Linked DNA regions of Homo sapiens. The protein of the gene in region 2 interacts with the protein of the main gene of each other region in a biochemical or structural test. Each region holds a gene or a part of one and is shown on either strand. Other genes may lie near its edges.

Evidence for each region.
Region 1: the proteins of PARD3B (region 2) and CLDN14 interact in a test that uses a peptide from one of them, tested with the Homo sapiens proteins (one large-scale study listed by IntAct).
Region 3: the proteins of PARD3B (region 2) and GAGE12J interact in a test that uses a peptide from one of them, tested with the Homo sapiens proteins (one large-scale study listed by IntAct).
Region 4: the proteins of PARD3B (region 2) and ABCC4 interact in a test that uses a peptide from one of them, tested with the Homo sapiens proteins (one large-scale study listed by IntAct).
Region 5: the proteins of PARD3B (region 2) and ATP2B4 interact in a test that uses a peptide from one of them, tested with the Homo sapiens proteins (one large-scale study listed by IntAct).
Region 6: the proteins of PARD3B (region 2) and SDC3 interact in a test that uses a peptide from one of them, tested with the Homo sapiens proteins (one large-scale study listed by IntAct).
Region 7: the proteins of PARD3B (region 2) and NRXN3 interact in a test that uses a peptide from one of them, tested with the Homo sapiens proteins (one large-scale study listed by IntAct).

What each region holds. Positions count from the first base shown.
Region 1 is NC_000021.9:36,477,323-36,481,367, reverse strand, and holds the start of CLDN14 (claudin-14), read left to right. Parts: upstream 1-1,245; 5' UTR 1,246-1,873; exon of another isoform or gene 1,874-3,994; intron 3,995-4,045.
Region 2 is NC_000002.12:205,615,975-205,619,474, forward strand, and holds part of PARD3B (partitioning defective 3 homolog B), read left to right. Parts: 3' UTR 1-3,500. UniProt on the Homo sapiens protein: Putative adapter protein involved in asymmetrical cell division and cell polarization processes. May play a role in the formation of epithelial tight junctions.
Region 3 is NC_000023.11:49,320,721-49,324,836, forward strand, and holds the start of GAGE12J (G antigen 12J), read left to right. Parts: upstream 1-1,316; 5' UTR 1,317-1,424; intron 1,425-2,465; 5' UTR 2,466-2,473; coding exon 2,474-2,557; intron 2,558-3,022; coding exon 3,023-3,143; intron 3,144-4,116.
Region 4 is NC_000013.11:95,161,952-95,165,451, forward strand, and holds part of ABCC4 (ATP-binding cassette sub-family C member 4), read right to left. Parts: intron 2,568-3,500; coding exon 2,427-2,567; intron 1,697-2,426; coding exon 1,659-1,696; intron 1,266-1,658; coding exon 1,171-1,265; intron 1-1,170. UniProt on the Homo sapiens protein: ATP-dependent transporter of the ATP-binding cassette (ABC) family that actively extrudes physiological compounds and xenobiotics from cells.
Region 5 is NC_000001.11:203,706,832-203,710,331, forward strand, and holds part of ATP2B4 (plasma membrane calcium-transporting ATPase 4), read left to right. Parts: intron 1-177; coding exon 178-392; intron 393-1,030; coding exon 1,031-1,273; intron 1,274-2,469; coding exon 2,470-2,711; intron 2,712-3,500. UniProt on the Homo sapiens protein: Calcium/calmodulin-regulated and magnesium-dependent enzyme that catalyzes the hydrolysis of ATP coupled with the transport of calcium out of the cell. By regulating sperm cell calcium homeostasis, may play a role in sperm motility.
Region 6 is NC_000001.11:30,898,759-30,902,258, reverse strand, and holds part of SDC3 (syndecan-3), read left to right. Parts: intron 1-3,500. UniProt on the Homo sapiens protein: Cell surface proteoglycan that may bear heparan sulfate. May have a role in the organization of cell shape by affecting the actin cytoskeleton, possibly by transferring signals from the cell surface in a sugar-dependent mechanism.
Region 7 is NC_000014.9:78,169,042-78,173,172, forward strand, and holds the start of NRXN3 (neurexin 3), read left to right. Parts: upstream 1-1,331; 5' UTR 1,332-1,633; intron 1,634-4,131. UniProt on the Homo sapiens protein: Neuronal cell surface protein that may be involved in cell recognition and cell adhesion. May mediate intracellular signaling. Functions as part of a trans-synaptic complex by binding to cerebellins and postsynaptic GRID1.

The DNA.
Region 1 (4,045 bases), on a different chromosome or scaffold from region 2:
GGTACCCCTATATATTCCAATATTCTTAAAATGGTGTTCAGCAAAGGCGATGATTCTATCTCCAAGTTAGTTCATTCCTTTAACAGTTTCATTTCAGCCTGTGTAACTGCTTTAGGTGGGGTGGAGGATCTAACGAAAAGGTCTATTTCGTTGTCAGGTAAAATTCTGCGTGGTTTTACGTAACTTTCCTGGCATAGATAGTGAAATAGTATATCTGGTGGGAAACCTCTAAGGATAGAGGATCTGGGCCTATAAATGACCTGAACCAAAGTTGTTTTTGTTTGTGACTGTTCACTTCCAAAAACAGACCAAAAAAGCTATGCAGATGTGGGTTATGTCAATCCTCCATCAATAACATTTAACAGATGCTTCCGAATGCCTGCTCCAAGCTCCTGACACTACTGGATGTGCTGTCTTTCTGTCCTTCACCGTCCCATTGCCAGGGACACAAGGGCCAGGCTTTTGGTCCATGCCCAGGGCGTTTGTCCACACCAGATTCCTTCGCTGCATCTTTTTTTTTAAACACCAACCAGAGCCCGGCGGATTGATGCACACTGTGGAAGACACGCAGAAGCCCAAGTAAGTCCCTGGCCCTGGAGCATTTGCGGTGTGCTCAGTGACGAAGGGGCGGAAATTCTTGTCATGTTAAATCCATGGCTCTCAGCACACTTCTCAATTCCAGAATCGCCCACAACGATTTTCAAAATTGAAAAGGAACTGGGATTTGTGCCTTGAGAGGGTCCCCAAACCTTGGAGCCACTCAGGGTGCTGGCTTTTGGCTACACATTCCCACCAAGAGATTTCATTCTTGCAATTTTCAAGGCCAAACATCTCTTAATCAGCGAATCATTCCTCAAAGGGCTGGAGGCGTTCCCAGCCCTGACCAGTTCCCTCAGCCACCCTCAGGTGCTGCCTTCACTTCCAGCAGAACTCTCCCTAGCCCTCCTGGACATCGCTGTCAAGCAAGTGTCTTGACCTTCCAAGAAAGTCACCTTCTTCCGTCAGCACTGGTTTCACAGTATGCCATGTCTCTTATCTCCAACTTGTAGCAAATTGTCCCTCTTTCCACACTGTGCTCCTTGACCCGTCCAGCTCCACATTCCACCAACAGACCATCCGAATCACCCACAGCTGCAGCTGTAGAAAAAAGCAAACAAACAAAAGCAGTTGCTCGTTGATCAGAATCGACCAGCATGCATCTAGGGCCCATAGCAGCCTAAAGGCTGAGAAGCTGAGTTACTCAATAGCAGAAAAGTCCAAAGCAGTGTGAGGACAACCGCCAGGTGGTGGCTCAGAGGAGGACACAGTCGCTGTGGGCAGGTGGTCAGGGCGCAGGAGGGAATGAGCTGTGGATTTTTAGTAATCTACAACAATCAGGCAGTTCCAGGACACAGGGAAGTGAGTGTGAACAGCCAATGGACCCGGAGCCGAGAGCCTGGGCAGGCGTAGGCTGGACTATGGACGCCCTGCAACCCTGCCAGGCTGGGAAGGGGAGGCTTGATCCTGAGCGCGTGTTAGGAAGGAGATGCCCAGGTTCAGGTGTATCGTGCATTTTTTTTCCACAGTGCAGAAATGACATTTCTGGTTGGTCTTGAATGTCTGCTCTGGCCAAGCCACCTCCTCTCATGCTAGCTAACCAAGTGGCACGTGTGCCCACGCAGGCCATTCTAAGGAACACTGTAATTGTCTAGACAATTTTCTCTCAAATACTCCGTCCTGGAAGCGTCTGGTTGGCAGAAGAGGGAAGGCAGGAGGGTGGCAGCGTCCCGGCTGAGTCCTCTTGCACATGGGAGCTGGAGTCCAGCCAGGCTCCAGAGCGGCTCCGGCTGGCAAGGGACCTGAACAGGAAGATGAGACTCGAGGTTTTCTGCATGTGAGTTTGGGGTGAAGCTGTGGATGTGGGGTGGGCGGGCTGGGGTTGACAGTCATCTGTTTTGGAAGCCCTTAGGCCCTGCCGGTTAGATGTGCATGCAGCCAGGGGTCCGAGCGTTCTCCAGAGGAAGGGACCGTGCTGGCCCCTACAGGAAAGGAAGCTGCAGGCTGGTCTGGGTGGCCTCCAGAGGACCCCACGCAGCTGGCATGAGGGCAGCCAGGCTCCTAATGAGCCAGGAACGACAATAATCCAGTTCCTGAGTGTTTGGGCAGAACTCTTTTCATCGCTTACCAGGCCTGTTTGGGAGGAAGGACTGAATCTGTTCAGTGTTTTGAGGCCACAGCTCAGCTCGGGGAGCTCAGCGCCACTGCCCCCTTCTGTCTGCTGGGACTCCCTCGTTTTTCTGCAAAGAGGGCCAGGCAGACTGTTCCGAGTTTCCAGACTTGGGAACATTCTCCTGCTCCCTAAATACACCCCTGCCCTCCAACACAGACACATATTGGCATGGCAGGAGAGGGGGGGAAGTGATAGATCTCTCTCAATGAGGGTAAAAAATGGTGCTGAAGAGGAGAAATGCCATGCAATTTGAGACGTGAGTTAATCCTTCAGTTACCTGGGGCCCCACATCCCCAACAGCTGCCACGGCTTCCCAGGATGGGCAGGAGGGACCCAGGCAAAATAGAAAAGGAACCAGGATTAGTGTCCTGAGACCGTCCCCAAACCTTGGAGTGCTGTCCTCACTGGCTTTAACTGGGTGCTGGCTTTAATTCCCGCAGTGTTCAAAGCCAAACATCTCTTGATCACTGGGTTTCATTTTTGAAGTCTTGGGAAACCAGAGGACAGTTCATCATCGTGTGCTTCCAGGGGCTGGGCCCAGGTCTGCTGTGAAAAGATGCTGTCATCTGAGCTCAGCGTTCATGCCCGTGTCTCTCAGTCACTCACTGGAGTTGGGGACGGGCTTATCTGTTAGGATGATAAAACTTCCATAGCATACGCCTTGCATTTGCTGGTATCTGTCCCAAAGGGCTTGTCAGTTTTTACATATATTATCTCAGCATCTTCTAGATGTCTCTGCAGAGGAGCTATTCCTATGTAGACAGTCATTCCTGTGTAGACAGTGAGTAATAGGCTGAGCAGCTTGCCCAAGATTAGTCAGAATTGAAGCCAGCGCCAGCCCCCATCCTTATCTGGCTCCAATCTGATTTGCATATCTCAAGCTTACTGTGTTTTATTTACCCATCTGTATAAAGGGTTCAATGCTTCTTAAGACATCTACAGAAAAATCTATAAAAAGGAAGACACGTAGATTCTTCCTTTGGTGCTATGAAAATGTCACTATTAAATATTTCCTGTTTTCCAGTTAGTTTTTAGTTTTTAGGTAAAGATCAATAAAATGGAATATGTCCATTATTGTTTTTAAAAAAATCATTCTGTTGCCTATATATCAGAAAAGATCTTTCATTACGCAGAGTAAGAAGTCTAAAAGTCTGTTTTCAAGGCTAGTGCCAATGTGTTTTTAAAACGCAGGTGGCCAGCCTTGCCAGTTCAGGAATGATTCTTGGCGTTTTCAAACTCAAACGTTCCTCCTTCCAGCTAATCTGTGGATTCTTCACTCGCACCATTTGCAGGACAAGTGGCTGCCAGGGCCAGGGACTTTTCACCGGGTGACCAACAGCAACATAGTGTGGGGAATTTTCTACTCTGGGCCATTTGCTGAGAGGGCTCCTGGGCCTAAGCTGCTACCACCTCCTTTATCTCTCCCTGTCGGGTGACTCTATAAAAAGACAGGAGAAGCTGAGGCTCATTCACTCACTTTGTCCACTTCATTCCCAAGAGAAGTGTCGGGGGGACCTGCCAGGCTTAGGGGAAGCTCTGAGCTGAGCCCCTTGTGCAAAGAGGCGAGCCACCCAGAGGCAGCTGTTCCCTTCTAGGCCTGGAAGTGCACATGCTCATCTACAGCTTTCTTGGAAGAAGAAAGAAACAAAAACTGAGATTTAGAACACCAGGTCTGTTTCCACTGGCGGCCACTCTTGGGCACTGGAGACCAGCAAGAGCTTTGTTTTTAAAAGGCTCTTCCATGGCAGATATTCGCAGAGGCATCAGGGCTACACTTAAATGAAGGTAAAGTAAACATATGAAACCATATTTTCGATTCTACAGAACACTGCAAGA
Region 2 (3,500 bases):
AGAAGGGGAAGGGAATTGGGGAGGAAAAAAAATCAGAAGGAAGACGAAAGATGGGGCTATAAAAACAAAACTACCTGATAGTTGAAACGCTTTCAGAGTTGTTCAAATCAGTGAGAGTGGCAACGGAACACACAAACAACTAATTATGGAACTCTACTCTGGGGATCCTCTCTGGCTAGATAACCTGTGCTGATGTGCAGACACGTGGACATCCCCCTCTGAGACTGGCGGTCCAGAGGCAGTCTCTGCCAGGCAGCATTACCCGCTCCGAGGTGGAGCCTCAGCCCCCTTCTTAGAGCTGTTAAGTCTAAGGTGTGGCAGAGCAGACAGAGATAGAGGCATCTGAAGTGAGTATAGGTTTTTTGACTAAGAAAAAAAACAACAGCAAACATGACTAGTGATCTTGAAATATTTTGTACCGAGAGAAAGACTGCATTTATTTGTAGAATTTATCAGGTTTCTGATACCACTCATTGGATGTAAACATTTCATGTTTCCTCACTTTTGATATGAAAGTCGGTAAAATGCAGTATTAGTCCCGGGAGGATGTGCACAGCTGGTCAGAGCTTCCAGAAGGAATATCTTCCGAGGACTAAGGTGATCAGGTTAAGAGGGTTCAACATCCCACGGCCCTCACCTTCCTCCCTCCCACATTCCAGGCATGGAGATATCTGGTTTCAGAGTCAGCCCCAAATCTCCTGCCTATAATTACTTTAACTGGGGTCTCTAAGGTTCCCACTTGAGGGCTAAAATGTAGTTGGGAAAGAGGGCCTACTGGGGAGGTCTCACAGGAGGCAGTGCCCTGGGAAATGCCAAGTCCAGACTCAGTGCCAAGCAGTAACCATCTGCACTCGGGGACAGCGAGGAGCTGACCATGGCCTCTGATGACCAGCAGGTATTAGATGGAAGTGAATGAGAGAGAGAGAGAGAGAGAGTATGTGTGTGTGTGTGTATGTGTGTGTTCGAACACATATGATTGCCAGTATGGAGAATGAAAGATTAATAATGCTTTCTGGAGAGTTTGATGCAAAAGTGGGGGAAACGGAGAAAAGGCGCTAAGGCTAAATCCATCTGCATTTGCTATATTTCATTAGCTAAAGTCAGGTCAGGGCAGGGCCAAGGCCTCCAATTGGCAAAGGACAGTGTTATGGCTTTAAAAAGCTGAAACCCCAACCTCTAAGTAGATCACAATGTTTTCTGAGCTTTGCAGTAATTTTCTATGGAAACTAAAACCTCTAAAACATACAAGCTGGCCCAAATGAGAACACAAGCAAAAGATGTGGAAGACAGCAAAACCTGAGCACTGGTTTGAACCAGGCACTGACATTTGAAATGCTTTAAGCCTTTTCACATTCCTTCTTTATTCCCTCCAAAAAAAAAAGTCTTGAGTTTAATTTAGGTCTATTTTGGCTGAGATTAGCATACCTCTGACTCACAGGATTTAATAAATTATAGTATTATTGAATACATAGGACATCCCTCTACCCCAGCTTACTCTTATCTTTTTAATTTAAAATAGTATTCTGCTACCAAGAAGGATGCAACTGCTAGTTTTAGATGTAAATAGTGTTATTTACTGGACTTTGTGATATTATTTTCTTAACTACACTTTACTATGGCCCTGTTGAAAACAGACTATCAAGTTTTTTGTCTCTGTTCTGTCATCTCTCTTAAGCCAGGCACCTTTAGAGTGTTTGCAATTTGTTCGAAGTGGTTGAGGATCTCAGGCCCTGCTCACGTGAGGTGGAGTGCAGGGGAGCTACCGGTTTCCCTGCTGACCTGCTGAATGCTACCTTCCCCTCGAGTTGAATACACCTTAAGGAAAATGATAACACGAGGGACGTGTAACTTGTTTTGAAGCATTAAAAACCAGCAGCTCTTCACTATGTTCCATATTTTAACCAAACTACTGTAGACTACTAAACATAGCCAAGCCAGAACATTCCTTCTGGATTAAGCCTAGGCCACTTGAGGGGCAGCCAGGGGTGATGGTGTCAGGTGAGAATCCTGTGTCTTGAAGGAGTGGCCTTTACAGGAAGAGTGCCCATGTTTTCACCTGCAGCGTTGCCACCAGAGTGTGCAATACCTCCTGCACACAGGCTCAGGGTAAACTGCTCCAAAGCTGGGTTTTGTGTTGCATACAAAGTCAATAAAATAGTTGCTAATCCTGAATGGCAGCCAGTGATGTGAAGGTACTATTAAAGTGAACAAAAACTAGATTGCAACAGTTTTCTTTCCTTGCTTGAAGTATAACACACGCTCCATTTGATCCTGCCTGAAAGAAGCTAACATTATATTTGTGACAGACAGAGGCTCCATCAAGCCAAGCAACAATTAACAGCTCAAGTGTAAGATTTATAAATGCCCGTGTACTCACCCTTCAATTGTTACCACCCAGAGGTTACAGGACTCTTTCCCAGCATTTAGGGGAACAGGCTTTTAGAGTATTTAGAAGACCAGGCTATAATCAGTAATGTGCCTGGGAGCAGGAAATAGCTCCCAATTTATTTATGGCCTTGGGAAAACTCAATCCGGTGTCTCCTTGTAGCTCAGAACACTAATAGCCCCCCTGGAAGAGAGTGGCACATTGAGCTCCAAACCCAATCAACATACATCCACTTGGCTGCAGATCTGACTGCTGGGTCATGAAGGCCGTGAAATGATGTTTGCCCTCAAGTCACTAGATATTTTAAGAAGCCCTATTTTTCTCCCTTTTTGCAGGAGTAGAGAGATGAAAGAGGACAGACCATTGAAAACTTTTAGATGCAGGAGAATTGAGACTTCCACAAGGGAGAGAAACACAGCCTCCCCAGAATCCATTATGCCATCGGGTTGTGGCACTCTCACCCTTGCCATAATACCGTTTCCTAACAATATCAAATCAGTGGATGAAATACAAGCTCAGAAACAGGAACATTTTCCTAAATCATAACCTAATAGCAAACAAAAATTGAAAAAACAATTATTCTGAAGCTCATTATTCTTAGATCTGTAGATATATATGTGTTGACTCCCACAGGATGGCACCAAGTAAAGATCTTAAGAGCATAGTAGGGGTTCTGAGACCGACTGTCACCCGTGGATCCTGATGGGGAAGAACAGAGGCTTCACTGTAGCTATAGTTTTCCACCAAGTCAATCAAATTAAAACATGACTCATTGTCCCCTCCAAAGATTCATAAAATTCTTGAGCTAAAGTGATCTTCTGAAGAAAAGCCACCTAACAATGTTAGGAGGCTCATAAAGCTCATTTCTCTTTTCCCTGGTATGCACAAATATCAAGCCTATAAAAAAGTAATTATTTCCCCAAACCTGTAACCACTGCATTCGTTTTCTTTGGAGGAACATTGTAGCATTTCAGGAGGGTCGAGAGATCTAAAGAGTTTGGTCTGAATGTGTGTCTGTACAATTCCCTTTGGCATTAAACTCTGAAACCTACAATCAATGGCCTTCAAATTGGTGTTAAATTGGGAGAACACCCTACTGCTTTCTGAGTCTACG
Region 3 (4,116 bases), on a different chromosome or scaffold from region 2:
GTAGATGGACTTTATCAGAGTGAGTCATTCCATTCTGTTCCAAATTTGCTGAGAGTATTCATTTGAATATATGTTGATTTTCATCAAACAGTGCATCTATTTCGATTACCACAGCGTTTTTTCCCATTCATGTGTTAATATAGTGAATTCGATTGATAAATTTGTACGTTTTTAGGTTCGATTATTAAAACTTGAGACAGCGTCTCACTCTGTCACCGAGGCTGGAGTGCAGTGGTGTTATCAGAGCTCGCTGCAGCCTTGACCTCCTGGGCTCAGGCGCTCCTCCCACCTCAGCCTCCTGAGTAGCTGTGAGTATAGGTACATGCCACCATGCCCAGCTAATTTTTCGATGGTTTTTTGTTTGTTTTTTGTAGTGATGAGATTTTCTGATGTTGCTTAGGCTGGTCTCGAAGTCCTGAGCTCAGGTGATCTGGCCAGCTCAGCCTCCCAAAATACTAGGATTACAGGCGTGAGCCTTGGCCTGGTCTGGTTTTTCTTATATAGGGGTCTTATCTATATAAAGACTAAAGTTAATCTGTGCCTTTGTGCGGGTGGGCTAAGAGCATGATGACTTTTATCATTCTATTGATTTAAAGAAAACTATCCTTGACTTACCAGTGTGTAAGGCCATGAAAGCATAATTCTGTTGAAAGCATATATTGTTAATGGGTGTTGGGAACCGTGCACTTTCCGCTGCTGTGGGAGCATGTCCTTGGAGGTACCTTTCATCTGTTTTCTCAACTCCAAACATCTTAGGACCATGGGTTGTGACTGGTAGGACTATGTATCTTGCTGCTTTCAAGACGGAGTATATTTTCACGTGGTTTCACTCTGGCTGTCCTGTTTCCCTAATACTGTCACTTCACCCTCTGTGATTCTGATGCTACAAATGATAGATATCGTTTTAGCATTTTCTTACGGGTCCTAGCGATTCTATTCATTTTTCTTTCAGTCTCTTTCTCTGACTTGTTCACAATGAACAATTTCCTTTTGGGATAGGTTGCTATTTCTGTTTTCGCAGGTGGTTTACCTGTCTTCCCAGCCAGTCACAGTGGTCCTTGTCCCCATGGTGGGTCCGGGGCAAGAGAGGGCCCTGGGTTGGGGGTGGGGTTCAGTTGAAGATGGGGTGAGTTTTGAGGGGAGCACTACTTGAGTCCCAGAGGCATAGGAAACAGCAGAGGGAGGTGGGATTCCCTTATCCTCAATGAGGATGGGCATGGAGGGTTTGGGGCGTGGCGCTGGGAACGGCAGCCCTCCCCAGCCCACAGCCGCGCATGCTCCCTGGGCTCCCGCCTCAGTGCGCATGTTCACTGGGCGTCTTCTGCCCGGCCCCTTCGCCCACGTGAAGAACGCCAGGGAGCTGTGAGGCAGTGCTGTGTGGTTCCTGCCGTCCGGACTCTTTTTCCTCTACTGAGATTCATCTGGTAGGTCTGCAGGCCAGTCATCCCGGGGGCTGAAGTGTGAGTGAGGGTGGAGAGGGCCTTGGGTGGGTCAGGCGGGTCCCGCTTCCTGGTCTGTGGCCTCCGAGGGAGAAGGGCCACGAGGTCGTCCTCCTTCCCTTCACAGGCTGCGAGGCCACCGGCGGCTTCGTGGTCGTGAAGGGGCCTGGACGGGGAGGAAGGTGGGCCGTGGAGGGGAGGCGGTCAGGGGCTCAGGTGAAGATGGGGTGAGTGCTGTTGGGGGGATGGAAGTCCCGAGGTGCCGGGAACCCCCGACGACACAGGGCAGATTCCCTGAATGGGGCCTCCGGCGGGGGCGAGGCGGGCGGTGAAGAAGGGGCCTGGCACCTGGGAAGGCTGCGGCCTGGTGAGCGCCCCCCCCAGCGGTGTGGAGTGCGGAGCGCCTGAGTGAGAAGCACTGCAAGGTCTCACCTCCGCCATGGAAGGTCCGAAAACAGTGGGAAGGAGTGGGCGAGGCAGTGCGGTCCAACCAAACTTGTTGTGAGGGGGGGTGAATGGCTCTAGGAAGTGGGAGTGTGCCCAAAGCAGCAATCACGAGAATTGTGATTCACTAGGGTTTTCGTGGGGAGTGCACTTGTGAAACTAAACCTCATCAGAAATGACCTCTGTCTGCGGGGCGCAGTGGCGCTCGCCTACGTAGTCCCAGTTACTCGGGACACTGAGGTGGGAGGATCCCTTGAGCGGGAGGTCGAGGCTGCAGTGAGCTGTGATCACGCCGCTGCACTCCAGCCTGAGCAACACAGCGAGACCGCGTGTCCAAAAGAAATTTAGAAAAAAATGTCCTCTGCCTTTTGCCACATGCCTTAAGATGATTGCTCTGCCAGCCTGGCCAGCAGAAGTGGCTTTGTAGGCACTCAGACAGCGTACACACGTATGCTTAACTCTGGGACTTATCTTGAGAGTATTTTCAAAAGTAAAACGGCAAGTTTACATTTATCCATGGAAGTGATCGAATATAGCAGCCCTGTGGAGCGCACGTTCCCAATCACGGTTGTCTGTTTTCAGTGTGAAATATGAGTTGGCGAGGAAGATCGACCTATTATTGGCCTAGACCAAGACCCTATGTACAGCCTCCTGAAATGATTGGGCCTATGCGGGTGAGTGCTTGAACGTTAATTCGATGTTTTCTATTAGTAGAAATTAATTTTTGTGATAGCGTTGTTGCATTAGTGTGGAAATGCTGATAAAGGTCTTTCCTGCTCATAAAAAATGATGATGGCATCTCATGAAGGAAACATTGATTCTGGAGGATTTTTTTTTTCCTCTCGTGTTCTTCAGCTTTTGCCCATGACTTCTTTCTCCGGCTTTGTTTGTTAATGACAGATTGTACACATGTATTCCAACACAGAGTACAATAGCCTCCAAAGTCCTCGTGCGTCACTTTTCTCACAGTAACCTCCCTGTGGGTGGAGTAACCTTATTGGGCATAGAGCATAGAGTTGGAGAAATGTCTTTAGGCTTAGTTAGGACCAGAAATAGCTATGTATTCTGTGTATATATGTAAAATTTTGTATCAATAACGAAACTTATTTTTTATTTGCACACCCACACGTATTCCCCAGCCCGAGCAGTTCAGTGATGAAGTGGAACCAGCAACACCTGAAGAAGGGGAACCAGCAACTCAACGTCAGGATCCTGCAGCTGCTCAGGAGGGAGAGGATGAGGGAGCATCTGCAGGTCAAGGTGAGGGAAAGGGAAGAAGAACGTCTGCTGGTGTGTGCGTGTGTGTGTGTTCGTGTGTGTGTGTGCATGTGTGTGTGTGTGTGTGTGTGTGTGTGTTAGGCATTGTCACATAGGAGGAAGAGGAGGAAAGAAAACAATGGAAAGAATGCCTGAAATTGACTGGAAAAGCGAGGAGGCTATGTAGTTTGCAGCTTAGCTTAGGCAAATCCCTCACTATGATAAAAGTTCTCGACTTTATGAATGAGAGAATGGAGGTGCCAGGATTGTGTGTTATCCAAGAACCCTTGACTGGTGAATACAACATTTGTATTGTGTTCCAAGGTTTGTGTCTTCCTATCATGTGTGTTGCTGTAAAGAAGGAAGTGATTTTGCTGAAAATGCTTAAAACTCAAAAGGCTTTACTGTAAGGTAGCTTAGTACTGACCCAAGAATAGACCCAGTTCAGAGGAGCAGGAGCAGCTCCAAAAACCGAGTCGCTGAATGTTGGCCCCCGTTTCCTTTGATTGATATTTTTATATGGTACGTTTGATAAAAGCTGGATAAATGAGGATACTGCCATACAGGTAGCTGGTTTAGTGATTTTTCTCAGCGGCTTTTAGGAGGTGATTAAATCCTTTTATGGTTAGAAAAGCAAAAACGGAATTATCCTGAGATTAACGTGAGATGGAAATAATTTCTCCGAGATAAAATGTTTTGAAAGGAAGCGTTTATGTAATGGAGGTCATGGATTATTCCAGGGATGCACTGTTAAAAGTTCCTAGAATCTGACTGACAACAATGCCCATTAATTGCTGTCCACCCACTCCCTTATTCTCAGTGCGGGACAGTATATTTTCTGTGATTCACAAACAATGTTATATTTGGTGCTTTGTTCTTCACGGGGTTCATTTATGGAATATTACCTTTAGGACCTTCGGACCTAAATATAACTTTATTTGAACAAAGTGAAGTTTCTCTTTACCCCAATAGGTAA
Region 4 (3,500 bases), on a different chromosome or scaffold from region 2:
GAATAAAATAAATCATACATTTTATTAAGACATGAATGAGGATCCATTATTCACATAGAAATTAAAAGAGCTTTCCTAACATCTCTTCATTCACAATGCTAAATACAGTGGGGGTAACTTCTATAACAAATATTTCCCTTTCAGATGACATGTCACTGTTATTTAACCTCTGAAAGCAGCTCAAATTCCTAACTCCATCAACGGGCATTATCCTTAGCCTGCCATCCTACACGAACATAATAGAACATAATAGATTTCCTTCTTCCTTTAGTTTCCACATAGTCCATCAGTTGGAAGGTAAACACCTAACAGATTTAGATTTCTTAGCAAGCGATCGATGAAATAAACACCAAATTTCACTGAGTAGGTTCTTACAAAGATAACTCACTCTATCTCTGAGGAAAGCTTGTAGGAGCATTTCCTGTGGAAATATTTAAAATTTTAGATGAAGATTTTCTTTAAACAGTATGTAATGCTACATACATTCTAAGCACTCTTGTGAAAACAGAGTGTGGCGTTAATATTAGTCTGGCAAGCCAAATGTTAAATTAATCACACAGTTGGGGACGCGATAACATTGTGATCTCAAGGTAAGAAATAGAAGGCATCCTAATTCCCAGACACTGGATTTTTCCCTGCTCAGCTTCCCTCTTAAGTAATTAGTGAAGCCCAGGAGATGAGCAGTGCTGAAGGGAGCTTTGCATACCTGGGAGGGAATAATGCTTTTATTTTGGGGGCCTTGCTGCCAGAGGATTTCATCCAAGTTCAATAAAAGCCAGGGTTTATTTAGACAGAATTGGAACCATCCGAACCACAGGGTGGAGATCCGTTTCTAATCCCCCTGCCCATCCGTATAATGATATAAGATTTAGCTAAAGCAACCTATTAGAATAGACAATAGCCACATATTTCCAGTGGCTGATTTTCTGAATGCTCAATCCTGGTTTAACTTTCAAAATCCAGTACAGAGCAAATTAAGAGTCTTCAGTCAACCTCTCTTCTAGTAGATTTTTAAAATAATTATTCTAATTAATTCACAGAGTAAATTCGACTGAGACTCCTGATCTGTTAAGACATTACTGAATGACTCCTGGAAGCCCTAGTTACTCACACAGGCTCATTGTAAGCACCTCAGCCTCTCATACAATACACCAAATGATTAAACTTTACCTGAATAAATTCCTAAGTACCAGTTAAGATCTAGCTTCTCGGTTACATTTCCTCCTCCATTTACAGTGACATTTAGCATACTTTGTTTGTTTGCCCTATGGAACATGGGGAGAAAAAAATATTAAGCTATATATGAAATTTAGATAAATACATTTTTTTAAAAATGAACCACAATTTGGGAGAAACGCTTCATGCTGGAAAATGATTCTCAGCTCACTTAGTCTTGTGTATATCTACCTTATAAAAATTCAATTTAAATCACAACTTTCAGTTCCCGAAACTGTCTGTGAACATGATGCCGCGGATCAGACATGGGTGGAGACCACCGCAGTTTACACTCCACCAGCAAGCACTCTAATTTTTCTTCGGGTAAACGAAGTGAGGATTAGAAGAGAAGGATCAACAAACACCTCCCTCTAACTCTATGGAAAAGCGAGTCTTCTTACTGATTTTGGAGTATTTCATACATCAGACCAGAAATAACTTACCAGTATGAAAGCCACCAATCTTGAAGCACATAGGCAACCTAGGAGGGGAGAAACAACAAAGACAAAAATCAAACTTGGGCATGACTTACCAACTCAAAACTCTCAATCGCTAACATGGACAACCGAAAGAAAGCCCTCAAAGCCGGGCGTGGTGGCTCATGCTTGTAAACCCCAGCACTTTGGGAGGCTGAGGCAGGCGGATCAACTTAAGGCCAGGAGTTCGAGACCAGCCTGGCCAACATAGTGAAACCCTATCTCTACTAAAAATACAAAAATTAGCCTAGCTGGGCATGGTGGCACATGTGCCTGTAGTCCCAGCTACTCCGGAGGCTGAGACAGGAGAATTGCTTAAACCCCAGAGGCAGAGGTTGAAGTGAGCCAAGATCGCGCCACTGCACTCCAACCTGGGCAACAGAGCAAAACTCCATCTCAAAAAAAAAAAAAAAAAGAAAGAAAGAAAGAAAGAAAGAATAAAAGGCTCAGAGAACTCGCATAGTTCTTCCAGCTCAGGTCTGTGCCAAGCCCAAACTCCCAGATATCAAGGGTTCAAGAAAATGCATATTCCATTTTAAAATCATTGAAAGATACCCTTTTTTCGCAGGTCTTTGTAACGGACATGGAACACCAGTAGGCAGCCCTCACTTTGTTCCCCAAAGACAGCACATTTCAATTCAGACCCCAAGTGAACTGCAAGATGCAGTCATAATAGCATAAACATAGGTACTGTAAATATCATTTTGAGGGCGCAAAACAAATGTCATTATTTACCTGAGCTGCAGTGTTTAGGAGAATAAGGAAAATGAAGACAATCCAGTGAGCACCAGCTCTGAAGTAATTCTTATAGGCCTGAAAACCAACTTTTCCTTCAGAACGGTTCTCCTCTGATAGTGTAACTGGGACATTCTCTGTCTGCAGAGGAAAAAAGGTGGTAAGAGACAAAACAGTATACAAAACTGTTCCCAAAGATGACAATGCACTCTGTTGACAAAGCTGTGGGGAAACAGGCAGAAGTCCAAAATGATCCATCTCCTGTGGAGAAGGGTGTGGAAATAGCTAGCCAAACTATACATCCACTTATTTTTTATTTATTTAATTTTTTTTTGACTCAGAATTTTGCTCATGTTTCCCAGGCTGGAGTGTAGTGGCGCGATCTTGGCTCACTGCAACCTCTGCCTCCTAGGTTCAAGCAATTATCCTGCCTCAGCCTCCTGAGTAGCAGGGATTACAGATGCCTGCTACCACGCCTGGCTAATTTTTTGTATTTTTTAGTGAAGACAGGTTTTCACCATGTTGGCCAGGCTGATCTGGAACTCCTGACCTCAGGTGATCCTCTCACCTCGGACTTCCAAAGCGCTGGGATTGCAGGCATGAGCCACCACACCCAGCTATATGCACTAATCCTTGGACCCAGCCATCCCACTTTCAAGGTTCTACTAGAGATAAGGAAATATCATTTGGACATTGTGGCGTGGCTTGCTGGAAGGATGCCATCAGGATGTTCAGCACTTACCTAGCACACCCAAATTCAAGTGTCAATACAGAAACTTGTTCCAAAATCATATACAAAAAGATATGGAACTCTCAACTGCATCACTCAAGATGGAAACATAAAAGAGCAGGGGGTCAAAACATGAGCTCAACACAGTAACTGGGGTCAAGCAGTGAGTCTCAGTAACCAGAGTTTGGAAAGGAAGGGATAGCATATGATCCTAATCTATTTGGTTCCTGAGTTTCAGAAATTGACTCCTGATAATTTGGCATGTGAGGGCCTAATCTGAATATCTGCAAGAATCCTTCAGTCTCCTGGATTTGGATAGTCAGGGTTTGTGTGGCAAGGAATAT
Region 5 (3,500 bases), on a different chromosome or scaffold from region 2:
GTTCCCTATGCTATAATGTACAAGCAACAGAGAATGGGGGGGATTTTAGTAAGTCTTCCTGGCGATGGTGGTTTTAATAATTGGCAACAAAGGCTACAACTGATGCCAATCTATCTCTGGCTAGGGCCCTAGGACTGCCCTCCAGCCTGGGTTCATATGACTTGTTTCTCTGGACAGGTCTGCTCATGTCTGCTCTCACGGTTTTCATCCTGATTCTATACTTTGTGATTGACAACTTTGTGATAAATCGCAGACCATGGCTCCCTGAGTGTACTCCCATCTACATCCAGTACTTTGTCAAGTTCTTCATCATCGGCATCACTGTACTGGTGGTGGCTGTGCCAGAGGGGCTGCCTCTGGCTGTCACCATCTCACTGGCCTACTCTGTGAAGGTGAGACTAGAACAATCCTATCTCTTCCTTTAGGATAGAGATGGGAGAGAAGGGTACCATGTAACCTTTAGTGAAAAGATAAGCCATTCTATCATCTATAAACTTTGGCTGGTGCCTCACAAGAGCAGAAGTCCCTGGTATTATGGAAGGACCATCTCTGTCAGATGCATCAATGTTGAAATGACCCAGCAGAATCTTAAGAGAATGACAAAAATGGTATCTTGGATTTTTTTTTTTTTTTAAGACAGAGTCTCATTCTGTCACCCAGGCTGGAATGCAATGATGCAACCTCCGCCTCCCGGGTTCAAGTGATTCTCGTGCCTCAGCCTCCCAAGTAGCTGGGATTACAGGTGTGCACCACCATGCCCAGTTACTTTTTGTATCTTTTACAGAGACAGGGTTTCACCATGTTGGCCAGGCTGGTCTTGAACTTCTGACCTCAGGTGATCTGCCCGTCTCAGCCTCCCGAAGTACTGAAATTACAGGCATGAATCACTGCACCCAGTCAGTATCTTGGATTTTTGTGTGGGACTGGAAGATGAAATGTGGAGAGATGTTGGCTAGGAAATGGCCTTTGACCTAGATTTAGGAGAGTCCAGTTAGTCCCCCTCTCAAGTCTTTTCTCTTCTCCTTTGTAGAAAATGATGAAAGACAATAACCTAGTACGGCACTTGGATGCTTGTGAGACCATGGGCAACGCCACCGCCATCTGCTCTGATAAGACAGGCACGTTGACCATGAACCGCATGACTGTGGTACAAGCTTATATTGGGGGCATCCATTACCGTCAAATCCCAAGCCCTGATGTCTTCCTGCCCAAAGTCCTGGACCTCATTGTCAATGGCATTTCTATCAACAGTGCTTATACCTCCAAGATTCTGGTAAGCATTTCCTTTGCGTAGACACTTAGAGTGGGTGGTTGGAAGGGAACATCCATTTTCTCTGAAATGAACCCCCTTATTGTTTACACTGCCTAAATTGCCATCCCACATCCCATTTCTCACGCTGGAGTGAACATGTTTGGGTGAGACTACAGAAAAATCCCTGGGAGTCAATGGAGGGTTGGAGGTAAGGGCCTGTAAGAATCTATGGCCAGGAAATACCCTCCCAATTAGCATGTAAAAGCAATGTCTCTAAGGAGGGAAAGTAGAAAGTAACCCAAAGTAGAATTGGGCTTATCAGAAGTAAATTACTCACTTTCTAGAAACAAGCATAGTGTATTAGAATAAGACCCACACAAGGCGAGACACCAGCACTACCACTAGAGCAAACTACAAAATCCCTAAGCCCTGGATGGCACAAGGATCACGGTTACCACTGACCCCTCTCTGCCTACCCTTGAAAAACAACAGGCTAGGCATAGTGGCTCACTTCTGTAATCCCAGCACTTTGGGAAGCCAAAATGGTAAGATCGCTTGAGCCCAGGAGTTCGAGACCAGCCTGAGCAATATTGTGAGACCTCATCTCTACAAAAATAAACAAAATTAGCCAGGCATGGTTGCGCACCTGTAGTCCCAGCTACTCCAGAAGCTGAGGTGGGAGGATCACTTGAGCCTAAGAGGTCAAGTCTGCAGTGAGCTGAGATCACACCACTGCAGTCAAGCCTGGGCAACAGAGCAAGGTGCTATGTCAAAAAGAAAAAGAAAAAAGATGCCAGGTGCTGTGGCTCATGCCTGTAATCCCAACATTTTGGGAGGTTGAGGTGGGCAGATCACCTGAGGTCAGGAGTTCAAGACCAGCCTGGCCAACATGGTGAAACCCGGTCTCTACTAAAAATACAAAAATTAGCTAGGCATGGTGGCAGGTACCTGTAGTCCCTGCTACTCAGGAGGCTGAGGCAGAAGAATCACTTGAACCTGGGAGGTGGAGGTTGCAGTGAGCCAAGGTCGTGCCACTGCACTCCAGGCTGGGCAACAGAGCGAGACTCCATCTCCAAAAAAGAAAAAAAAAAATGTTATTTCCCCTATGAGCTCCAGGTATATAATGTGAAGGCTTTGTAAATGAGTTCTTTCTCCCTAAGTTCTCTGCCTTGTCAAGGCATCTTACTCAATAGTGCTGTGTATATTTCTTCTCCCAGCCTCCAGAGAAGGAGGGAGGCCTGCCTCGGCAGGTGGGCAACAAGACCGAGTGTGCTCTGCTAGGCTTTGTCACAGATCTGAAGCAGGATTATCAGGCTGTGCGTAATGAAGTGCCCGAGGAGAAGCTCTACAAGGTGTACACCTTTAACTCAGTGCGCAAGTCAATGAGCACCGTCATCAGGAATCCCAACGGTGGCTTCCGTATGTACAGCAAGGGCGCCTCTGAGATCATCTTGCGCAAGTGAGCACCCCCGACCACTCTGCTTCCCTTCAAGATCCTCTCCTCAGGAAGGCATGGGTGCACACCCCACACTGAACCCATGTGAATGAGGGAGCCCTCCAGCCAGGTGGTGACATAATAACTAATATCCAAGCGTCTACTCAGGCCACGCATGTTTTTTAAGTGCTTAAGGTGGCTTGTTGTATTTAATCCTCACAACTCAGTAAGGTGGGTACTATGATTATCCCTGTTTTACAGATGAGAAAACAGAGATATAAGGAAGTTAAGTATCTCACTCAAGGTGATACAGCTAATAGTGGCACAGCCAGGATTCAGACCTGGACGATCCTAAGTTTCCATTTCCTAATCTGAAAACAGAGATAGCCATACTCAGCTCCTAAAAGTACTACCCCCTCACTGTAACTAAATGATTCAATGTATGTAAAATGCCTTATACATAACAAGTACTAGAAACGTTTGTTCTGTGTTCTCTTTTCCTTCTCTTTCCTTCCCATTCCCATTTCTGATTACAGGGAATTTACATAACTTTAAAAGTGACTATTCGGCCAGGCGCAGTGGCTCACGCCTGTAATCCCAGCACTTTGGGAGGCCGAGGCAGGCAGAACACGAGGTCAGGAGTTCGAAACCAGCCCGACCAACATGGTGAAACCCTGTCTCTACTAAAAAAAAATACAAAAATTAGCCAGGCATGGTGGTGCGTGCCTGTAATCCCAGCTACTCAGGAGGCTGAGGCAGGAGAATCGCTTGAACCCAGAAGGCAGAGGTTGCAGTGAGCTGAGATCGCACCAC
Region 6 (3,500 bases), on a different chromosome or scaffold from region 2:
GTGGCGGTGGCCCCAACAAATGATCTGGCCCTTTTTTTACCTGGCTGCTGTGGGTGGAGGGCAGGAAACGCCTATGCTGGCCTTTTATACCAGGTGGAGAGGGTTCTACAACCCCTGTTGCCCCAGCTGGCTGAGGCCTGCCTTCTCCCCACCCCTGGCCTTGGTGCTATGTCTGTTTTGGGGTGTCCCAAGCCTGAGGGGGCAGCTTGAAGTCATCGAAGGAGTAGGGATCCTGGAGCCAGCTGATTCAGGGTTGAAATCCTGGCTTTGTCACATTCCTGCTGTGTGACCTTGGTGAGTTCACCTAACCTCTCTGAACCCGCAGTCTCCTCTTCTTTAAAATGGGACCTCAGGGTTGCTTGAGAATTAGTAATATAAAGTAATAAAGTAAATAAAGTACTAAAGTAAATAAGGAGCGGGCTGCTCCTGCAAATCTTGTTTTTTTTCCATTCACCTGCCTTGGTTTTTGTTCTTTTTCTGTCCCTCTCTGGGTCTTACTGAAGAACTACTGCTTGGGGGTGAGGAGCAGGGTTTTCTTTTGGAGAGAGGGGGAACTAAGTTTGAATAATCATGGATGGCCTGAAGGAGAACTCTGGGGGTGGGGGTACCCTTAGAAGGAGACCAAGGGCCGGACTCCCAGTTGGAGCCAGCAGGACTTAAGCCAGATGAGAGGAAGCACATTCTAGGGTCCGTGGTGCTGAGTTTCTGGGGGCTGGTTCTCCAGAGCTGTTGAGCAGCCTGCAGTCCATCCTGCATGATGACTCTTCAGGCCCTTCCACTCCTGGAACTCCAGAGAGGCCTTGTTATTTGCAGCTTGAGCCCAGGACTTGGTGAGACTGGGTGCTTTCCATTTTCCTCCCAGCCAGGGAGCATCTCGGCTGTGTTCTGTCTGTCACATGGGCCCTGGCCCAGAGTAGGTGACTATTGATGTTTACGCAGGATCTCAGGGGTGGAGAGTCCTAGAGAGATGGCCAGCCCTACAGCCTGACATCCCACAGCTGATGGCCCAGCCACAGCCTGGGGCCTTGCCAATGGATTGGGGCTGGCTCTCCAGCCTTAGATGGTCCCACTGAGCCTCCCACCACTCTTGAGGGGCTGGTGGGATTCCCCTTATTTAGAGGAAGGCTCAGAGATGTTAGGCCACCTGCCAAAGCACACACAGCCAGGAGCTGGTGGAGCCTGGTGTTCATTTGCCCCTTCTCCTACCCTGGAGCCCCATCTGATCTTGTCGTCACATCCCCTACTTAGCCAGGGTTTTCTGGGGGTGCAGCTGGGACTGGGGATAACACTGACTTGGGCCTTCATCCTGCTTTTGGATGGGCCATGGGCTTCCAGGGTGCTGTCTGGTGCTGCTTCACCCTGGGGTTAGCCTTGGCCCAGGCGACCCTAGAGATTCCTGTACCCCCTGCACTGCCAGCTAGGACCCCCCCATCCATCCTGCCCTCCCCCATCCCTGCCTGCCAGCCCAGACTTTAATGAGGGTAATTTAGAATCAATCACCAGCGGGATCTGGGAAATCTAATTGCAGCAAACTGATTGCCAATTCGATTGCGGGCACCAGGGGGCTGTGGGCGGCTCATTAGACCTGTCCCCCTCCCTGGGCTGGGGCTTGGGGGTGCTCCGTGGGGGATGCAGGGCCTGAGTAGGCAAGGCTCCTGGAGAGCTGGGGGGAGGTGGACTGTTGTTTTGGGAGCAGGGGAAGGGCATTTTTACCTGACAGAAGCCATACACTATTCCCTGTCCAGGCCCACAGTTGGGGTATAGGTGCCTGTGTCAGTCTTTACCCTCTGTCATCCACCCCTTGCTTAATGCCCCCTCCTCAAGGCCTGGATGCCATTGTTGGGGGGTGTCTGCAGCTGCATCTTACCTGGTTCCTGCCTTCAAGATGCTCCCTGTGTCAGGGAGACAGACACAAGCACAGATGATGACGAGGAAGATGATGAGAAAGATAACGGCCAATACTTACTGCTGCATGTCATGTGCTAGGTGTGGTTCTAAGTGCTTAACATGCTTTATCTCAGTGGGTCCTCACTATGGCCCTGTGAGGCAGGCATGGTTACCCCATTTTACAGATGGGGGCACAGAGGCCCTGAGAGGTTGAGCAATGTGCCCACAGTGGGGCAGTTAGCAGGACTCTGAGCCTGGAGCCTGGGTGCTTATGGAGATGCTCGTTCAAGAGCGTGGGGAAAAGAAAGGGCGATCAGACTGTTACTGTGTCTATGTAGAAAAGGAAGACATAAGAAACTCCATTTTGATCTCTTTCTTTTCCCCACACAAGGGCATCAGGCAGACGTGTGGGCTCCTGCATGGGCGCCTGTCTTGATTGACTGCGTTGCTCACTCAGCAGACATTTACTAAGCACCTGCTGTATATGAAGCCCTGTGCAAGGGGGCTGTCAGTGTTCAGTTGTGTCGTGTGTGTCCTATGTCTTGTCTGGCCATGTCTTGCTTCAGGCAGGTTTACTGGTGGCAGGTGCATGTGCTTTTGTGAGGTCTCGAGGGGGGAATTGAAGAGAAGCAGGGAGGAAGCCCTACCCCTCCTCCCTGACAGGCTGAGCCCCAGCTCTGCCATTAGAAGTGGGTGGATTTTGGCTGGGCGAGGTAGCTCACGCCTGTAATCCCAGCACTTTGGGAGGCCAAGGCGGGTGGATCATGAGGTCAGGAGTTCAAGACCCACCTGGCCAAGATGGTGAAACTCCATCTCTACTAAAGACACAAAAATTAGCCAGGCGGTGGCAGGTGCCTGTAATCCCAGCTTCTTGGGTGGCTGAGGCAGAGAATTGCTTGAACCCGGGAGGCGGAGGTTGCAGTGAGCCGAGATCGCATCACTGCACTCTCGCCTGGGTGACAGAGCGCGACTGTCTCAAAAACAACAAGGCAGGCTTGGTGACTCATGCCTGTAATCCCAACACTTTGGGAGGCCGAGGCGAGCAGATCACAAGGTCAGGAGTTCGAGACCAGCCTGACCAACATGGTGAAACCCCATCTCTACTAAAAATACAAAAATTAGCTGGGCATGGTGGTGCACACCTGTAATCCCAGCTACTCCAGAGGCTGAGGCAGGAGAATTGCTTGATCCTGGGAGGTGGAGGTTGCAGTGAACTGAGATTGTGCCACTGCACTCCAGCCTGGGCAACAGAGCGAGACTCCATCTCAAACAACAACAACGAAACGAAGAAGTGGGTGGATTTGGCTAAGTGACTCTTGACTCAGCCTTAGTCTCCTCTTCTGTCAGACAGATCCAGTGATCCCTGACCCGTTAGGTGGTGGTGAGGAGTGGTGGGAGGTGCAGATGGTTAAAAGGAACCTGCTGCTGGGTGATGACTTTTAATTATTATACATTCCCCAAGGTGGTTGTGTCTCAGAGGTGAATTTGCCACTAGCTTGTCAAGTGGTAGCAGGCAGCCTGTTCCCTCTCTGGGCCTCCACTTCCACGTCTGTTAAATGGGAAGAGTGAATGGTGACCCAGGGGCCCTTGTAGTCTTCAGATTTGAGGAACTA
Region 7 (4,131 bases), on a different chromosome or scaffold from region 2:
AGTCCTTGGGGTTCAGACCTTGATAGATTCATTTTGTTTCTCATGAGCATGATGCCGGGTACATGTGCTATTAAAGTTTGCTGGGTCAGGAAAGTGCTAGGATGCTGCAAGAACATCCAGTAAAGGGCAGAAATATAAGAACTACCATCCTTGGCTGGAGGCAATAGAGTACTGTGGCTAACAGGCAGGCTCTGGAGTGGGATAGACTTGAGTTCAAATTCATTCTTAGCAGCTTCCAGCTGTGTAACCTTGGGCACCCTCTCTAAAGCTTCAACTTTTAAGACTGTGGAATGGATCTCAACTGTCAAATAGCACAAACCTCACTGGACTGAATGAGATGACCCACGTAGTGGCATATGGTAAGTGCTCAACAGCTATTAGTGGATTGGTGCTGGTCCAAGGGAGGACATGCCAGTGCAGCCCTTAAAAAGGGAGCTGGAGAAGAAAGGAGTTTGGGGCTGCATTTTCACATAAGGTGCCAGGGCCTGATGCTGAGCAAAACCTTTGTATTGGGTGCCACCGACTGTCATCTCTTGTTTAGGTTTGACTGGGGAAACGTTTCCACAGACATGAACTAGTTTGTCAAGGCTGGCAAGGGATTTTCAAGGGTTTAGGGGTGCAGTCTAGGCTCAGAGCTCAGAGTGCAAGCCACAAAAGAGAGCCATCTTCCTGAGTCACCAAAACACTTGATTCGGGCCTCTGACCCTTAGCTGGCAGCCCCTTAGGATAGGATGGGCTGTGCCTGGGTCTGTCTTTGCTGCTAGGGGCTCTGAGAGAGGAAGCCCCATTTGTCACTTTCATTTCTATGTCCCCAGCCCCTTGCAGTATGCTTCATCCTAAGCAGGCATTCAAAGTGCTTGTTGAAGGAATAGATTTGTGTCCTAGTTACAGCCCTGACTTCCACTAGATGCTCAAAGATTGCCCTGATTTTGCAAGGAAGAGCAACTACTCAGGGAAACTGAGGCACACTTGTAGGTTAGAGTCCCTCAGTCTGCAAGGAGACACACACATCCTCAGCAGTGGGGAAGTGGTTTGGTTACTGAAGCTGTAAATAAGAATTTTGTCTTTATATTAATTCCTACTCTGATTCTAGGGAAGAACTCTCCTCTCAGGCTGGAGTAAGGGGAGAACTGAGCTCAGACACTGCCTCTTAGTTGTGGGGGCTGCAAACTGCCCCTCCCTCATGATATCTTCTCAGCTGTTTGCAAAACAGTCAGGGAGGAGGTGAAGCCCTGAGCCAGGCGGCCTGTCTGTCTCTTTAAATGCTGGGGTCTGTGTGGGAGAGGGAGGGGCCGGCTCTGGAGTGCGTGAAATTCCTGGGCTCCTCCAGCAGTCTCAGGCTCAGCGCTCAGCCCTACACATCGCCTCTTGCATGCAACTCACAGAGAGGGAGAGGCAACCTGTCCTCCCCTCTCTCAGCCTCGGCATCTCCAGCCACCAAGGACCTGCTTTTCGCACCTCCAACAACCCCTCCCTTCTACCCTGCCACTCCCTCCCAGAGAGAAAGGAAAAGGAGAGAGAAAGATTCTGGAATTTGAACCTACCCAAAGAGGAAACATACCCAGCAAACTCAGTTGATTAAACATCAAACAGACATACAGACAGATCCCAAATCTTCTGTTCAACTGGAAAGGTAAGGTTTGCGGGGAAAGGAAGGCAGTCAGGGCATGAAACAACTCAAGGTTCTTGTCCGTTCTGGGAAGAGGTTGCTCCTGAGAGGGTAGAAGTTTTCAGTTGGGAGCAACCAACCTAGATTTTCTTTTTTGAATACTGTATCCATGAGCCTTGGCTGACTGTGGAAATGGCTTTTCAACTGCCTTTCTTTTCCTTCAGTTTCTCCTGGAAGTTGGGTCCTTTTCCTCCAGATGTTGGAAAAGTCAGAGAATGTTTTAGATTTTTATCTTCTTCTTCTTTTTTTTTTTTTTTTTTTGAGTCTTTCTCCTATTTGCTTGAATTGTTAGTCTGAAATGATGTGTGCTCATCACTTCATTTTGGGCAGATACTTTTTTTTTGACATTTTGTAGTCACTTCCCCCCTCATTTATTCATTTATTTATTTGGGCTGGTTAAAATGAGAAACAGAAAGGACACTCTGAGGATCACAAGAAAACAAAATTGAATTGAGACAGGGATTTCCCTAGCTGTTGAGGAATTGACGTGTATGTGAGTGTGTGTGTGCTTTTTTTTTTTTTTTTTGAGGGGGTGTGAGGAGGTGGTCCTAGAGTCTAAAAATTCAGGTTGGACTCCTGTCTTGTGAAGGTGGGCATACTTGGAGAAGGTGAAAAGGGAGTGTGTGTGTGAGTGTGTGTGTGTGTGTGTGCGCGGGTGTGTGCTCCTGTTTGGATCGGTTACAAGGGAATCTTCCTCCACTGCCTTCCATTTGTTTATATTAATGATTTAGTAGCAGGCTTGCCTGAAAACTTCCACTCTGTGTAAGCACTGTGGGTTTTGCAAGCTCTCAGTGACCTTAAAGCCTGGTTCGATGTATTGTTTTTTCCAGGCATTGTGCTGTACCCAGAGTTTCAGCTCTTTCCCTCTCTCTTTTTTAACCACAAAACTTAACTGCTTTAGAAACATCATCCTGATGACAAGGAAAAAAATGTGTCCCCCCACCCCCCATCCCTTCTTAGGCCAGTGATGTAATACCAACCTAAGGGCTCGGCTGCTTTGCAGGTGACTTACCCTGTGATTACTTGTTAAAAAAAAATAAAATTTTCCCTTCCTCCATTAAATGTCTGCCTCTTTTAATTTGGATGTAGAAATATCATCATGCAATGAGAACATCATATTTTTGCTAACCATTATTGGGGTTTAGGTAAAGTAGGATTGCTCTTCTCTGATCTTTATTGTTAATACTTTTTTTTTTAATGCAAAGGTCAGAGATCATTGAGAGCTAGCTTAGGATGGAGCAAGATAGAGTCAGGGCAAATAAAAGAGCTGGTAGGACAAGAGCTGTCTTCTCCCCGCTTCCTTCGGTTCCCGCTTTGGGGAGATAGTTTTTCTTTTACCACTACAAGCCACCCCAACATTCTTCTTTCTTCCTCTCCGCTGGGTCCTGTGGATGGCCCTGGGAGGGAGAGGGGGCACTCCTTGTCACACCTGGAGGATGGTGTAATTTTGGGGGTCAGATGACCGTTTGCCTTTGTGATGAAGGTTCCAGTGGAAATTTGAACTCCCAGCACGCTGCGTGACTTGGTACCCAGGATAGTCTATCTGGGGGCACCTGGAGGTTAGTCTGGGGAGGCTGGAGAACTGGCTCTTTATTAATTTGCCGTTCTGGGTAGAGCCTTCCTTCATCGTTCAAGGGCTTCTGCATCGCCTTTCAAGTTAAAATGGTCCCGCTGGTTATGATGGGCAAGTTTACCTAAGGGCTACTGGGTATGTGGCGGAAGGATGGAGGGGAGTGAGAGGAGGCAAGGCTGGTATTTATTTTTTAATCTTCGGGCTTAATCTGCCTAAGTCATATGGGGCAAACGATATTTCAGACGGGTGCTGGTTGTGCAGATATTCCTATTGTTTGATTTTTTGTTGTTGTTGGGGAGTGGAGTAAGGGCTCTTGGCCCATTTTCTGCAGCCTGAGGTTCATCCTGCGAGTCAGTCTTCCTTCTGGAAGGGGGGGAAAAGGCTGGACACTGGAAGTTCGCTATTAAAGTGAGCAACAGGGCTGGGTTTATTTTTTAAAAACAACCGGACTGTGCGAATGCCCTTTTCTGGAGCTTTCTGGCCCTTTCTAGTGAAATAATAATTTAAAAAAAATTGCTTCTTGAGAAGAGGAGGGGGCAGAAATTAAAGGGATTCTAGATTTTGAGAGACAGCTACGTCTTTGCTTCTCTGGTAGTTCCCTATTATTAATTATTGGGGTTTTGACGGCGTTCTGGCCTCCGTTTTTGTTGATTTCATTTTAGTGCTGCGTTTCTCCTGACTATGTTGATGATTTGCTGCTTATATAAGGGAAAGGATGTATTGAGGTGGACTGATGCTTGGGGTTTTGAGATCGGCTACTGAGATTGGGTGGCGGTTGGTGTGTTTGTCGATGTGCATGGTAGGAAGGTCTTTTCTTTTGGGTGGTAGGGGATGAGAGAATGGTGGGAGAACGGTAGATGAGATGCTACAGCAAACGGGGATGTGGGGG